Linked DNA regions of Homo sapiens. The protein of the gene in region 3 interacts with the protein of the main gene of each other region in a pairwise test. Each region holds a gene or a part of one and is shown on either strand. Other genes may lie near its edges.

What was found.
Region 1: the proteins of ORC5 (region 3) and DMRTA1 interact in a two-hybrid assay, tested with the Homo sapiens proteins (one large-scale study listed by BioGRID and IntAct).
Region 2: the proteins of ORC5 (region 3) and STAB1 interact in a two-hybrid assay, tested with the Homo sapiens proteins (one large-scale study listed by BioGRID and IntAct).
Region 4: the proteins of ORC5 (region 3) and DBF4 interact in a two-hybrid assay, tested with the Homo sapiens proteins (one large-scale study listed by BioGRID).

What each region holds. Positions count from the first base shown.
Region 1 is NC_000009.12:22,445,437-22,449,630, reverse strand, and holds the start of DMRTA1 (doublesex- and mab-3-related transcription factor A1), read right to left. Parts: upstream 2,808-4,194; 5' UTR 2,566-2,807; coding exon 1,899-2,565; intron 1-1,898.
Region 2 is NC_000003.12:52,508,684-52,512,344, reverse strand, and holds part of STAB1 (stabilin-1 precursor), read right to left. Parts: intron 3,136-3,661; coding exon 3,024-3,135; intron 2,476-3,023; coding exon 2,289-2,475; intron 2,204-2,288; coding exon 2,110-2,203; intron 1,997-2,109; coding exon 1,838-1,996; intron 696-1,837; coding exon 600-695; intron 5-599; coding exon 1-4.
Region 3 is NC_000007.14:104,183,869-104,187,529, reverse strand, and holds part of ORC5 (origin recognition complex subunit 5), read left to right. Parts: exon of another isoform or gene 1-3,317; intron 3,318-3,358; coding exon 3,359-3,407; intron 3,408-3,496; coding exon 3,497-3,587; intron 3,588-3,661. UniProt on the Homo sapiens protein: Component of the origin recognition complex (ORC) that binds origins of replication. DNA-binding is ATP-dependent. The specific DNA sequences that define origins of replication have not been identified yet.
Region 4 is NC_000007.14:87,900,339-87,903,999, reverse strand, and holds part of DBF4 (protein DBF4 homolog A), read right to left. Parts: coding exon 3,651-3,661; intron 3,237-3,650; coding exon 3,122-3,236; intron 1-3,121. UniProt on the Homo sapiens protein: Regulatory subunit for CDC7 which activates its kinase activity thereby playing a central role in DNA replication and cell proliferation. Required for progression of S phase.

The DNA of each region.
Region 1 (4,194 bases), on a different chromosome or scaffold from region 3:
ATTAGCATTAGTCCTCCATTCCACTTTACTTGTAAATATGAATGAGCATGCCCCCGAACATGTCAATTATCAACATTTCATCTCTATAGCAATTTATGCATGAAATCATAAAATAATGTCTTGTTATATTTTACTCACAGTACAATATATGTAATGAAATACCAATTTGCATAAGATTATTTAGAAAATATGGTGTCTTTAAAATATAATACCACTTATATCGTCTCTCTGTCTTCTCAAGTCCTACAGCTTGCTTTACTTCTATTGCATTTATCATTGTATATTAAGCCTTGCATTGTAGTTTTTGGATACATATAGTCTGCCTTCTTTTGAATATAAGGTTCTTCTGTGTAGGAAAAACTTGTTCACTTCTAAATCACTGTTAGTCTTTGTCTAATGAATGAGTAAATTAAATAGACTATTTTACCACAGTTCATGGCTATTGTGTAAGAGAACCAGTCAATTTAGAAAGCTATTGAAGTAACCTTTCAAACATTAGCTTGCTTCTTATGGGGGAGGGGGCATCATCTGAGGCAAAGAACAAAGTAAAATAATTAGCTCTATAAAACAGAACACTTTGGTACCAACTAGAAATCACATAAATCAGTGTCTCACAGGGAGATGTCAGCCATTTCACTATCGGTGTAGTTTCAGGAATTCTCACTTTTACTTCTCTTTCATAGCACTTTTACTTAATAACTGTGCTCTTTAGCACCTTCATCTTTCATGGGAATTGTAGAAAGTCTGTTTTGCCTACTCAAATAAATTAGAATATGTGCAAAAGTTGACACATGCAAACACAAAATTCACTCTGAACTGAATGCCTCATTTCAATTCACAGAATTTTTCGAATGTACTGTGTGAGTAGAACTTCAAGCAGCCATTGAGCGAAAAAATCTGTTGAGATCTGCAATTTTCATAATTCAAGGAAGGTTTCTAATTAATAGTTTACTGTATAGCTATCATACAATTTCATATAATACAGCTTTATAAGTTTTGTATAAGTTTTTGACTTATACAAAAAAAAAATCACAATGATATTTTCACTGCTTAGTAGGCCCTGTGGAGGGCTATGAAGTTCACTAAAATATATCTCCTAACGCAGGAAATGAAGGCAACTGACTCGCAGTCAAAAAATAAGAGAAAAATAATGAAAACTCCTTGGATAAAAAACCTCTAATATTGAACTTTGAAATTCTTACCTATGGTTTTACAAATTACATTTTGCGAAAACAATTTAGAGTGAAGAAACAAAGAAAGACGATGGTTTGGTAGATTTCAGTCTCTTCCCCACATCAAGCTTGCAACAAATGTTTGCCCCAACATGTAGTAAAGAACTGCATCCCCAACTATCAGAGTTTCCCACGCAAAATCAGCTCTGGTTTTACAGCTGAAAACAGTCCAGAGCAGGGAGGATCACCTGAGCCTGGGGAGGTTGAGGCTGCAGTGAGCTGTAATGGCGCCACTGCACTCCAGCCTGGGCAACAGAGTGAGATCCTGTCTGGAAAGAGTACAGAGCAGACTCAAACACAGCACCTCTTACGAAGCTTTTCGCTCAATGCCTGCTTGAAGTTCTACTCACACAGTGAAAGTCAAATCAACTTCCGAGTAAATAACTCTACTCCTAGGGTGAATTGCTCATTTGTTACCACCCATGCTTCATTTTTTCATTATCTCATCCTATCACCTGAGGGAACAACAGTAAATTCCTCCAAAGTGAAGGCGATGGGGTCTCTCACACTCTCATTAATGTCCATATTGCTGAGCAGTTCCCCAAAACTTAAAGTGTTTCTTTTAAACAACTATTCCTGCCCGCCTATGGACACGGTGGCTTGTTTCAGAGTTTCTTTCCAGAACAACCATTCCTTGAGCAAAGAGTAAATCAAAGACCAACTCACCTTGTTTTTCCTCAGGATAATCTTGCTGGAAAACTTCGAAAGCGGGGGTCGCGGAACCACTGGCCTGTCTCAAGGCACCCAGTCCCAGCGCAGCCCCCGCCGCAGGGCCGCCCGTGGACTGTGGATTCTCGGCTCTGCCGCCGCCCCCGGATGCCCGACCACCGGGGGGCCAGGAGAGCCCCGAGCACAGGAGCCTCTGTAGCCCCCGGGCTTCGCTCTCCTCCTGCGCCTGCTGCCTGCGCAGCGCCACCTGGGCGGCCATGACGCGCTGGCGCTCGGCGATCAGGGTGCACTTGGCACACGCGCAGTCCCGCCAGCGGCAGAAGCGCTTGTGGCCCTTGAGCGCTGACACCACACCATGGTTACGACAGCGGGCGCACTTGGGCGTCCGCGGGTAGCCGCAGCCCACCGCGCCTACCCCGCTCTCCAGCCCGGGAGCCGGCGGGCAGCCTCCGCTTCCCGAGGTGGCGGCAGCGGCGGCGGCGGCCGCGGCCGCTGCTCGCAGAAAGAGGCTGGGCGGCCGCAGGAACGCTGGGGGAACCTGCATCCCCGATGGTACCGGCAACGCCGGGGACGGGGGCGGAGGGGCAGCCACCACTAGCCCAGGGGCCAAGTGAGGTCGGCCGCTAACGCCTCGGTCTCTGCTGCCACACTGTGACCGCTCCATTCCCGAGAAATTTCTGGCCGGGAGTCCCAAGTGGAAAGTGCGCTGACCGCAGCTAACCCTGCTGGGAGGCTGGGGAAGCCGGGGCAGGACGCGCCGTGGTCCTACTGAGCTCCACCCGCGCACGGACAAAAGTTTTACACTCTTTCCACTCGGAAGGAGTTGGGACGACCGCGTCCTGGAGCTGGAGACGCTGAGAGGTGCAGCTGTCCCGTGAGCCTGGCAGAGACCCCGGGCGCTAAGTTAATGCCTTTGTGCCTCCAGCCAAGAAGGCAAGGCTAGAGAGGCTACCCCGCCCACCCAGGCTCCCGGCCCAGCGCGGAAGCCGGGGGAGGGCCCGGGGCGGGGAGTGGGGACCTTCTGGGAGGAGGGCGGCGGGGAATCCGTCCAATGGGCTGCAAATGTCTCCTCCCCCAAAAAAAGCCCGTTTCTACTTGCTTCCCTAGGAGTTCTCGACGTCTATTTTTGTAAACTAGCCTTTGCAGCCTCCCCTTTTACTGCCCTTTTGAAATTAAGCAGAGTTTGAATTTCTCCTTTTCCCACTTCCACGCTTCTCCTAAGAAAGTCTGAAGATTTGGATTTTGAGTTCTCCTTTCGGGTTCCCAGATGAAGTCTTCATGTCTGCAGCAGTTTGGCCAATGTTAGTGGGATCCCAGCTTGATAGACTACGAATTTGTTACCCACCAGAAAGATGCCTTATTTTAAATGGGTCTTAGGACAGCATCAAAACAATGGATAAATAACTAAGGGAAGTGATTCACATTCAGATTCTTTTCATGCATTCTATTTATTTACACATGCGAATTTGGGTTGTGTGTACTCTATTTTAAAATACTGCTACTTTAAAAAAGTTATCAAACTCTTCTCTGCGCCTATTTATAGGCAGCGATTGTGTTAAAGCTGTTTCAAAAATACTTATGTCTATTGTAAAGTATTGGGGAAAGTCGTTTAGATCATTATTTAAATATGCTGTCATGAATGCATTCTTCACATATGAATTTAATGCCTTTAATTATAAGAAAAGACCATAAGGCGTTTAAGTCAAAAGAGCATCTGAGATAGAAAATTCATGAATGTTTATTCTTAATGGAAGGTAGCGTCAGCACTCTGCCAGCTCTTCAAGATGGTATCCAACTACCTTGGACAAGTTATTCATTTTCCATCCCTAAGATAGCAATTAATAATGATATTTTTACCATTCCACCTGTTCACATTCAGAGCAGATATTGCTGATCTATCTGGCCTTTCTCCTACCAACCTACTCAACACCATCACCACCACTACCATCCTCTCATACAAACATCCTATCGTAGAAGTTTTCCACCCTTCCTAAGAACTGGAACTACCTAGGGAACTTTTAAAAGAGATGGACACTCCAATCTACGTAATGTATTCTGATTCTTTTTGTCTGTGTCTTAAACTCTGAAGGTGAAAATTACATACAATGTTTAGAACTACCACTCAAGGAATTCCTAACCTCTGGGGGTTCTATGATATCCAACCTTTCTCACAACTCTTTATCTTTGTTCAAGCTACTCCTGCCTAAAATGTACTGATGCCCTAACTGTGGACTCACATCCGTCCTTTGAGAGATGAGTTTTTAGTTCTAAATGGATCATTAAAATACAATGA
Region 2 (3,661 bases), on a different chromosome or scaffold from region 3:
TGGCCTGGGGTGGGAGTGAGAAAGGGCCTCCATTCAGAACCAGATGGCAGCTGGGCCCCTCCCTCCCCCATCTTTCTGCCTGTCCAGCCACCCAGCCCCAGCCCCTGCCCCTTGCTCTGCAGCCACCCAGTCTGTGTTGGTGGCACTCCTTCGGTGTGCCTAGCCCTGCTCTCCAGGACACTGGGCATTTGACACAAGCATTACCCATGCCAGGTGGATGCGAGGGAGCTCAGGGCTGTGGGAGGACCCAGGAGGCCCGTATCCCCAGGAGCCAGAGCTGAGAGCAGGAGGAGCTAGCCAGGCCCAGGTGCAGCTTGCAGAAGCAGGAGTGTGGTACAGTGGAGCAAGGGCAGGGGATGGTGAGGAGCTCAGCGTAGCCAAGGACAGTGGAAGTGGGGCAGGAGTGGAACAGAGAGACGAGGCTGGGCAGGGGCGGGTGAAGGGGGAGAGGAGTGACATGGTTGGATTTGAAGTTTAGAAAGATCTTAATCCTGAGGGGGTACAGAGAGACACCCAGAGATGGGGAGGGAGGGAGAGAGCTGCAGCCCAGGCTCACCCCAGAAAGCTTCCCCAGGGCTCTGAGCCTTGCACCCCCTTACCAGGCCGTGGCAGCCGCCATTGCCTGCCCGGCAGGGGTCGATGGGGCTGCACTGGTAGCCATCCCCGGCAAAGCCCAGCTTGCAGGTGCATCGGCTCTGGAAAGGTTAGGAACAGACGGCCTTGTCTCATGATGAGCATCCAACCCTTTCTTCCTCCATTACTTGGCTCTCTCTGGTCACTGCCCCCAGGGAGGTCTGCCCAGACCCCAGAGGAACTTCTCCCAGCCCTCCTCTCAGAGATCTGTGCTCCAGATGGGGAGACAGAGGCCCTAAGGGGAGACTGGCTCTCAGGATGAGTCCACGGAGGTGAGAGCATTTGCAGAGAAGCATCCGTGGAGACTTGGTGCTCCTGCACTTGGAGCCTGGGGCCCTGCCAGGGCCATTGAGGCCAACAGCTTGTGGCAAGTGTGTAGGTACCTGCCAAGGCCAGCCCCAGGATAGTGGCTTAGATCCCACCTCCACCCCTGCCACCCTACTCAGCTGCTCTAATCCCCCAACCAAATGCCAGTGTCCCTGGGCTTGTCTACACTGCAGGTGAGTGACCAGCGAGACCCCTCAGCTCTCAGGTGCCCTTGTTTGCACGTTGGGAGCATCTCACTGGCTCATTCAACACCTCTGTTCTGAATTAAGGCCCTAATGGGGTTTGGAGCTCCAGCTCTTACACCTGTCAGTTCTTACTGCTAAGGCCCCACGTGCTGGTGCCCAGAGGCCACCTTGGAGTTGGGAGGACAGGGAGCCCCACAGGCCTGGCCATGCAGAGGCTGACCCTGACCAGCCAGGCCTGGCCTCCCACTTGGCGCGTTAGACAGTCTTCAATGCCTGTCCAAACACTGGTTCACCAGTCCTGAAATGCTCCACATGGAAGGCTCCAGGTTCCGAGCTCCCGTGACTAGATTCAGACACTGCAAAGCTCCGGGGCTGGATTTCCATGAGGCTAAAGTTTTGGGGAGGTCACTCCCACGGGCAGGGGCTTTTCCTGCTTTGCTCAGTATCACATTCCCTACATCTAGAACACGGACTAGCATGGAATAGGTGCCTGAAAACACCTGGGAAAGCAATGAGCCAATGGATGAAGGAGCGAATCCCAGATGCTACTACTCAGCATGTCAGCACTGGGTTCTCATCTGCACCTGAGGCTCCAGACCCTGAGCACCTGACTCTGCATTCCAGGAGTCAGATGGGGCAGGGAGAGAGTCCCCCAGAACCAAGGCCCCCACCCCTTCTCTGCTGCACCTCACCTGCCCGGGGCCCACATAGCTGCAGAGGGCATCGGTGTGGCAGCCACCTCTCATGTCCAGCTCACACTCGTCAATAGCCACACAGACGCGGCCATCCCCACTCCAGCCTTTGTGGCATGTGCAGTGGTGGGTGCCCAGGGACCCAGGGACACACTCAGCCTGTGAGAGCCATGGATAAATAACTGAGGGACACAAGAACGTAGGCAGAGGGCCAGGGCATCCCACCTCCTGCCTCTGGGTCAGAACTTCAGGGAAGGAGCAAGGGGACTGACATTCTCTGAGCAGCCTCCACGGTCCGGGTGGGAGCAGGGGTTGCTAGGTGTGCAGGAGAAGCCATCACCCTCAAAGCCATCAAGACAGCGACATCTGGGGGTGGGTGAAGGAGGGGGCTCCAGTGAGCCTCAGGTATGAAAGGTCACGGGTGGGGCAGACAGAAGGTGTGGGTCCTCACCTGGCAACACCCTCCTGGCTAACACAGCGGGCATGCAGGTGGCAGTGCTGGGCCAGCCCTGTGGGCCCACAGTCCCCCATGGACTCGTTGCAGAACCGGCCACTGAAGCCAGGGGCACACGTGCCCTGCTGGCACACCCCCCCACTGCCTGGGCGGTTGTCGCAGAGACCATGGACACAGCCGCAGTCTGTATGGAGTAGATGGGAGCAAGGAAACTGAGAAGCAGGAGGCAGGGCTGGCTGGGAGCCAGGATGGGTTTGGGGGATATAGGGAGTGGGGCAGCCAGTACAGATTTGACTTCAGGGTGGAAAAATCAGAGGTTATCTCAGACTCAATGGGCAGGCAGATGAAATGTGAGGGGGGCATTCTGAGCTTTCAATTATCCCATTCTAGTTGCCCTGATCCCAACACCACCATCAGGAAGTTCTTCAGTGTGTCTGACCTAAGTCCCGCATACTTTAAGCCACAGTTCCCTTCCTGGCCTGGGTGAAGCAGACAGCATCTCCTTTCTGTTCTCAAATCTTCCTCCACTCCCCTTGGCCTTCGTCCCTCCTCCTGGGGCTTCGTTTCCCTTCTTGAGAGCCCCCAGACCCATTTTTAGGCAAATCTTCCTCCACTCCCCTTGGCCTTCGTCCCTCCTCCTGGGGCTTCGTTTCCCTTCTTGAGAGCCCCCAGACCCATCTTTAGGCAGACGTTTTTTCTCCCTAGGAGGTGGCCTGAGCCAGGACCACCCACCTTCCTGGCATTGCTCTCCATGCTTGTTTGGGTTCGAGCAGATGTGGCAGGCGATGCCCTTGTAGTCTGGGAAGCAGAGGCAGGCCCCATTGCCCTGGATCCCATCACTGCACTAGAGAGTGAGCAGAAGGCAGGATCAGTCATGGGAAAGGGACTCTCTACATCCCCTCTCCCAACACCCCCTCCTTTCATGGGCTGGCTCTGAGCTCTTGCTACCCGTGAGAGCTCATCCTGGAAGGGATCTTCAAAATCACTGATGCCGCCAAAGACCTAGCCCCTAAAAGGCACCTGGCCCTGGAGGCTTTATGAGCAACATTTGCTGGATGCAGAAACACATAACTCCTGTGTTCTTCTATAGCCAGGTGCTAAAGTAACCGTGATATTACAAAGTGGTAAAAACAGAACACAAAAGAAAACCACCAAGTAGCCTTTTTGGAAATAAATGCCAAAAAATCTATCTATCTATCTATTATTATTATTATTATTATTATTGTTATTTTGGGATGGAATCTCACTCTGTTGCCCAGGCTGGAGTGCAGTGGTGCAATCTTGGCTCACTGCAACCTCCGCCTCCCAGGTTCAAGTGATTTTCCTGCCTCAGCCTCCTGAGTAGCTGGGATTACAGGTGTGTGCCATAA
Region 3 (3,661 bases):
AGGCTGGAAAACAGTCACTTTCAAAGTAACAGATTCTATGTCTCTTAGCACATTTTCTTCACTTTGTTCTTTTTCTGTTTTTGCCCTGAAAAGTATTACTTAGTTTCAGTGTGTGTTTGCGACAGAACACAGAAGGCAATCATTTAAAATTATGCTCACATTTAGTATGTTTTTGAAAGTTTCAGATTTCAGGGCTCCTCTGATTTACATGTAGATTTCAGACATCTTCTCAGCTGGGAAAAAACAAAACAGTTTTTCCAGTTCAAGCTTATCACTAACATTCCTCTAGAAGTTGGATGTCTTGGGATCCCTGGCTTCTGAGGGAAATGATAACACAAGAGACTTACAGAGAGGAGAGGGTCAGGAAAACGCACCTGAGTGAGATGGACTTAGGAGCAGATAATCCTCCTCGGTCTTTCCTGGAAAGTAACTTGCAGTTACCACTCTTTAGCACTCGAATCCTGTGGGAATCTGTGCTGACAGCCATTTCAAAGTAGATTATAAAGTACAAGAAGGAAAAATTTAGGGAAAATATTTATGGGAAAATAAAATGTAAAGAGAGAAATATATATTTAAATGTGGTATTTTTTAAAGTTCTTCGAGTTTCACTGTGGAATGATTTTATTTAGGGTGAGGTTACAGCTTTTTAAAAAATAATATTCATAAATGTGTAGTATGGTTTAAGTCTTATACTACTATTGGTAATAATAGAGAAAAGGATCCTTAAACATTAGAGAAAAATAGCACAATGTTCTTAGTTTTCTCTATATATAGAACATGGAAGAATAAAGATATTCATTTTCTTTTTTTTCTTCAGATAGTGTTGTTTGTGTTTGTTTCAAAGTTTGTAAGTGGCATATTTCTTGAAAGTTTATTAAATCACCTGAAAAATATTCTTTTCAGGGATCTTTTCTGGAAAGATGCTTTATGAATTGATATTTCTGTATTTTTCAGAGGCTAGTTCTATAGGTAGCTTAAGATAGGAGAAAATGAAGTACTACTTTGATATTCATTTAGGTTTGTTTTCTCTAACAAACCTTATGATACTGCCTTTTTAACTGTTATTCATAAATTATTAAACATATTTTAGTGTTTCAACCAAAGAGAAAATCAATACAGTTGCCCCTTGGTATACTTGGGGGATTGGTTCCAGGACCAGTCCCATATATATCAAAATCCTAGCACACTCAAACCCTGCGATCAACTCCGCAGAACCTGAGTGTAAAAAAGTTAGCCCTCCATATACATGGGTTTTGTATTCCCTGAGTACTGTTTTTGATCTGTGTTTGTGATCTGTGTTTGGTTGGAAAAAAAAAAAAATCTGTAGACAAGTGGACCCTCACAGTTCAAACCTATGTCGTTCAAGGGTCAGTTGTTTATTTTGATTAGCCAAATTGTGTACCAGTTGCTGTTAACATTATGACACTTTAGTGTTATTACACCATGCTTAGATCTGAAAATCTAAAATTAAGGTAAGAAAGTTTGGCTAAAGCGAATAATTTCTTTTTGATTCTTCTTCTCTACACTTAGTAGAATTTGGAAGATTTTTCTATTTTAAATCATTGTTTTTTATGAAGTAGAATAGGAAGAAATTATTTTAATGATTTGGTTCTTAGTTTTCTGTTATCTAGTTATATGTTATATAGTTACACATTTATATATATCTTTTTCTGTGCCTTATTGAATTATTTTGATATGAAATACTTGGGAACAAACTAATATATATATATTTTTTTTAAATAAATGGAATTAGTATGTTTTTAACCAGTTTGCTTAAACTGCTGTTCAGTAGAATTCCAGTGTTGATTCATGGAAAACTACTAAGTAGTTATAATTAGTTAATTAGTACTCCTCAAACTTTAGAATACATAGAGTTTCTAGAGAGATCGTTAAACATAGATTCCTGGGTCTCATCCTCAGAGATTCTGATTTGGTATGCCTGAGATGGTGCCAAGAACTTGCATTTATAACAATCGCAGGTAGTGCTGCCAATCCAAATACTTTGAGTCATACGAAACTCAATGATGTTTAGTTTATGAGAATGTTCAGACCTTAGAAAACAACAGTTAATTATTTGTGCTTGAGGTTTTTCATTATATGTTTTATGGTTCTATGTGACATAAATATAACCTAAAAGAACAAATTATGCTTTGTTACTGTAGGGAAGTTCACATTTTTACCCTGCAGTTTTGATAATTTGAATCTATAAAACAAACTAATAATAGATTAACGGGAAAAAAAAGGCATACAAATTTATTTTTTAATTTTAATTTAATTTTAAATTTAATTTTATATTAAGTTCCAGGATACATGTGCAGGGGCGTGCAGGTTTGTTACATAGGTAAAATGCGTGCCATGGTGGTTTGCTGCATCTATCAACCCCTCACCTAGGTATTAAGCCCTGCATGCATTAGCTATTGCATACAAATTTATTAATATGCATATGGGCACAGGAGCCTTACACAAAATATGAGACTCAAAAGGTGGGGGGCAGAAAGGGGGGCCAGCTGGTTCAAATTTTTATGACATCCTGAGGTTACAGAAAGAAAATGGGCTTGGAGCATGGCATAACAGGTTATTGGAGGGAGAGGAGCAAAGACTTGGTTAGGGAAGGCAGTCTTGTGCAAATGAAACCTCATAGGCAGCAACTTTCAGAAAGAATAGATGGTAGCCTGTGCTAAGTTTCTCTGTCACACCTTCAAAGGTGTCAGACCCTCAAGTCTCTTTCTTGAGAGTTAATCTTTCCTAGATCCAAGGTGGGGGGTGATCAGAGAAAGCCTGTTTGCATCTGCTGTTTTCTTATTTCCTCTACAGATGCAAATCTCCCTCACAAAATACAGCTTTTCAGGGCTGTTCTTGTGCTTGCAGCCCTTCTGATTAGCCATATCAAAATATACCAAAGAAGTATATTTTTGGTGAGATGCTCCATTCTCCTAATTTTGTATACAGAGGCTAATGTATTAGGCAGAATTTAGCCAATTAAGGAATATTTTATGTTGTGCTGTCATTATTAGTATTTTTGCTGTTTTGTTATTATAGTAATAAGCTACAATTACATTTTTTTTTAGAAAGAAGCAGGGTCTTGCCATGTTGTCCAGGCTGGAGTGCAGTGGCTGTTCACAGGTGCAGTCACAGCACACTACAGGCTTGATCTCCTGGGCTCAAGCAATCCCCCTGCCTCAGCCTCCTGAGTAGCTGGGATTACAGGCACATGCCACTGCGTATAATTACATTTGACTTGAGCAAATGTGTTAAGTAAAATTTCCTGAACTGCAATACAGATTTTACTTGAAAAATAAATTTCTAATTGTGATCGATCAGTGCTTTTTTTCTTCTCTTTTTTTTTCTTTACTTACAGGCAGTACTTAATTTTCCTAAATATTGTGAACCCGTGGTTAAAGGAGAAGGTAACTGTGTAATTTTACTCATTAATATTTATTTTGAGAAAGGTTTTTACAAGATATAAATTACTGAAATTTTCTTCCCTTTGGGGTAGCAAGTGAACGTGATACTCGCAAACTGTGGAGAAATATTGAACCTCATTTGAAGAAAGCTATGCAGACTGTTTATCTCAGGGAAATATCAAGGTAATTTTCTATTTAGTATGCATACTAGTTTTTATATCTTTATTTGGGATATATACTCTCTCAACTTAAATAAC
Region 4 (3,661 bases), about 16 Mb from region 3:
CACAGATCAGGCGCAGTGGCTCATGCCTGTAATCCCAGCACTCTGGGAGGCCGAGGTGGGCGGATCACCCGAGGTCAGGAGTTTGAGACCAGCTTGGCCAACATGGTGAAACCCTATCTCTACTAAAAATACAAAAAATCGGCTGGGCCTGGTGGCACATGCCTGTAGTCCCAGATACTTGGGAGGCTGAGGCAGAAGAATCACTTGAACCCAGGAGGTGGAGGGTGCAGTGAGCAGAGATGGCACCACTGTACTCAAGCCTGGGCAACAGAGCAAGACTTCGTCTCAAAAAAAAAAAAAAAAAAAAAAAGGGATACAGAGAGAGAGACAACAGTAACATTTTGGAAAACACATTTCCCTCTATTACTTTGTCTTCATGCAATTATCACTAAATAAGGCAGAGCTTATAGAATAATAAATGAATGAAATATAAGTTAACATAAAAGAATCCAGAAAGTAGATTAAACACATGAACCACATTAAATGCTGTGAAGTACTAAAAAAGCCAAGATTCGTAATTGAAGAACACATTTGGGAATGACCAAAACAAATGATCTCAATTACCCAGTGCTCATAACAGAGTATACAGAAGTTATTCTCATTCTTAAGAGCAGTCAAAACCACTGGGCGCAGTGGCTTACGCCTGTAGTCCTAGCACTTTGGGGAGCCAAGGAGGGCGGATCACCTGAGGTCAGGAGTTCGAGACCTCCTGGCCAACACGGTGAAATCCCGTCTCTACTAAAAGTACAATTAGCCAGGCGTGGTGGCGCATGCCTGTAGTCCCAACTACCAGAGAGGCTGAGGCAGTAGAATCTCTGGAACTCGGGAGATGGAGGTTACAGTGAGCTGAGATTGCACCACTGCACTCCAGCCTGGGTGACAGAGCGAGACTCCATCTCAAATAAAAACAAAAAACAAAACAAAAAGAGTGGTCAAAACCAAAAGTAAACAAGTTCACAACAAAGTGAGATAAAATTCACAGGAAACAAAGTTCCTTGTGAATAGGTGGAATCTCCAGCCTAACTTTATTATTTGTCTGTCAGCTGATCAGGGAGGGAATTGTACTTAGAAGCTTCCTCTAGATGACCATTAAAGAACCTAATTTCTATTTCCCTAGTTTCATGCAATTTTACATTTTGATGATTTTATTACATTTCTAAAAACTAGCATCCTGTAATATACATGTATTCCTTCATTACTTGCAAACTTTACCATATACAAATTATATATGCCCAGTAATAAAAATAAGAATTATCAAAATTTAAAAGGAAGCATCAAATCTTGTAAGCTCAGATTCACTCTGTTAATGTTCTGGGAAGGAAAAATTTCCAACTTTTATTTAGTTCCCCTCTAATTTCCATTAAGTTCTTCTTACTCATCCTTATAAGTCTTAATTTAAAGCGTCACCTGTGTTCAGTTGGGCCTTTTGAGACCCTCATTCTAGGTTAAATAACCTCATTATTTATTCCCATTGCACTTCATACTTTACTTTTGTGAAACTCATCACACTTGCAAATACATATTTTCTATCTATCTACACTGCCAGACCATAAGGTGCATAAGGGTAGGGATGTCCGCCTTATCTGTTGCTTTCTCCCCAGTACTCAAAAATATGTGTTAATTAATCCCTTGATACAAGTGGAATTGAATCATTATGAAACCTAACATTCAAAAAAAAAATGTCTTTACTCTTAGCAACTAAGAAACATATAAATGAAAACTGTAAAAACATGACCTTAAATTTCAATCCCAACCTCTAATCTCAACATCTGCTTTCACTAATTTTCTTCTTTGTGGCAACCACTGAACAATTTTTTCATTTTTTAGCCTCGACATTTTCTGAGAACCAAATTAAGCATCCATTCCAGATTATTTTGTTGCTACACCAGCAAAGTAAAACTTCAGGACCAATCTGTAATTTTAATTTTCAAAATTATTTTCAGGAAGGGGAAATATTTCTGAGATACTTTAGCTTCTGATTAAAAGCAATTTTAGACTAATCATAGTTTTCTTGTTTATTACATAAAAACAAAAAAACTGACACAAAACACTAATATATTTTGGTTTATAAAACAAACTTCAATTCAGAGTCTGAAGACAGATATGTTCCAGTATTATTCTTTCCCCTTAACTTTCCCACCATCTTCTACCAAAACCGAACCAAACACCAAAACAAACCTATCTATTACGTAAAAAATTATTCAAATAACAGCTAACAATAAGCACTTACTATGTGCCAAACACTGTCCAAGCTCACACAGCCAGGGAGCCAGGATTCAAACCTGGCAGCCTGAATCCATAGCTCTTGCTCATCAGTTTACAAACTATAATAGTTCCCCCATTTTCATCCTATATACCCTTTGCAACTCTCCCATTTCTTTCTGCTACCTCAATGGTCTTTACTTCTTTCAACTCTTCTCTTCCCATTATAAATAATAAGCCCACTTTTTAATTGCTAAGGTTCAAAATACTATAGTAACCCTTGACTACCATTTTCCCTCACTTGCAACATCCAATCCATTGGCAAATCCTCTTGGTCCCACCTTTAAAACAAATCCACAATCTGACCATGTTTCAGCACTTCTACTACCACTTAGTCTGGACTATCAATATCTATTCCTTGGTCCCATCAATCATTTTAAATTGGGACCTTTGCACTTACTTATCTCAATATCCAGGTCTCATTACTTCATTTCTCTCAGGTCTCTACTCAAATGTCACCTTATCAGTTATGTGTTCCTTGTCTAGGCTAAATAGCAACATCCCCATTCCTATGTTCTATTTTTTCATAGCACTGATCTAATATTCTCTCTCTATATTTTTATTCTTCTTTTATCCTGTGGTTACCTATCTCCACCCCTATCCCACCCCTACCCTACAGAATATAATCTTCACAACGGTAAAAAATTAAGTCTGTTTTGTTCAATGCTGTTTGCCCAGAGTAGTGATCAGTATGTAGTAGACGCTCAGTATTTGCTGAATAAAAATTCATTTTCAATACTCATTTCCTCCCTTGAGTTCTTAAAATGTAAAATATCTGCATCAGAATAACAAGCTAAAATTTAAAACACAAGTATTACAGTTTTCGAAACAAGCCCCCAAAATATAAAATCACATTTACAGTTTCTAGATCTTCATATTTCTGCAAGCAACATTCACAATATCCTTTTTTCTTCTTCTCTTTCAACTGGAGTTGAATTGAGGTTCCACCATACTTATCGCCATCTGTTTGGATTCTGATGACAGACATACATGGTAAAGAATTAACTGCTGAACCTAAGGAATAACTTTAAAAATTTATTGTCCTAAACTATCACACACAATCTGCATAATTTGCAGAGACTTGTATCAGCAAGTACTTTTAATCATATTTCTTTATACTATATTGAGAAGCAAACTAAAGATTTAATGAATATTCTGGAGAATATTTCAGATCATTCAAGATAAACTACACATTTTCATTATTCACAAATATTTTAAGGCCCTCCCCACCTCCATCTAAACAGATTCAGACTTATAAAAGTAATCAGAATAGTAATTACAAACACAAATAACCATTATGGCATAAATGAAACTATTTCAAATCTTTACAAAGAAAAATTGAGATGAAATTCTGAATATTCCTTCTAAAAGTAAAGATTCAAACCAACCTTAGTTTAAC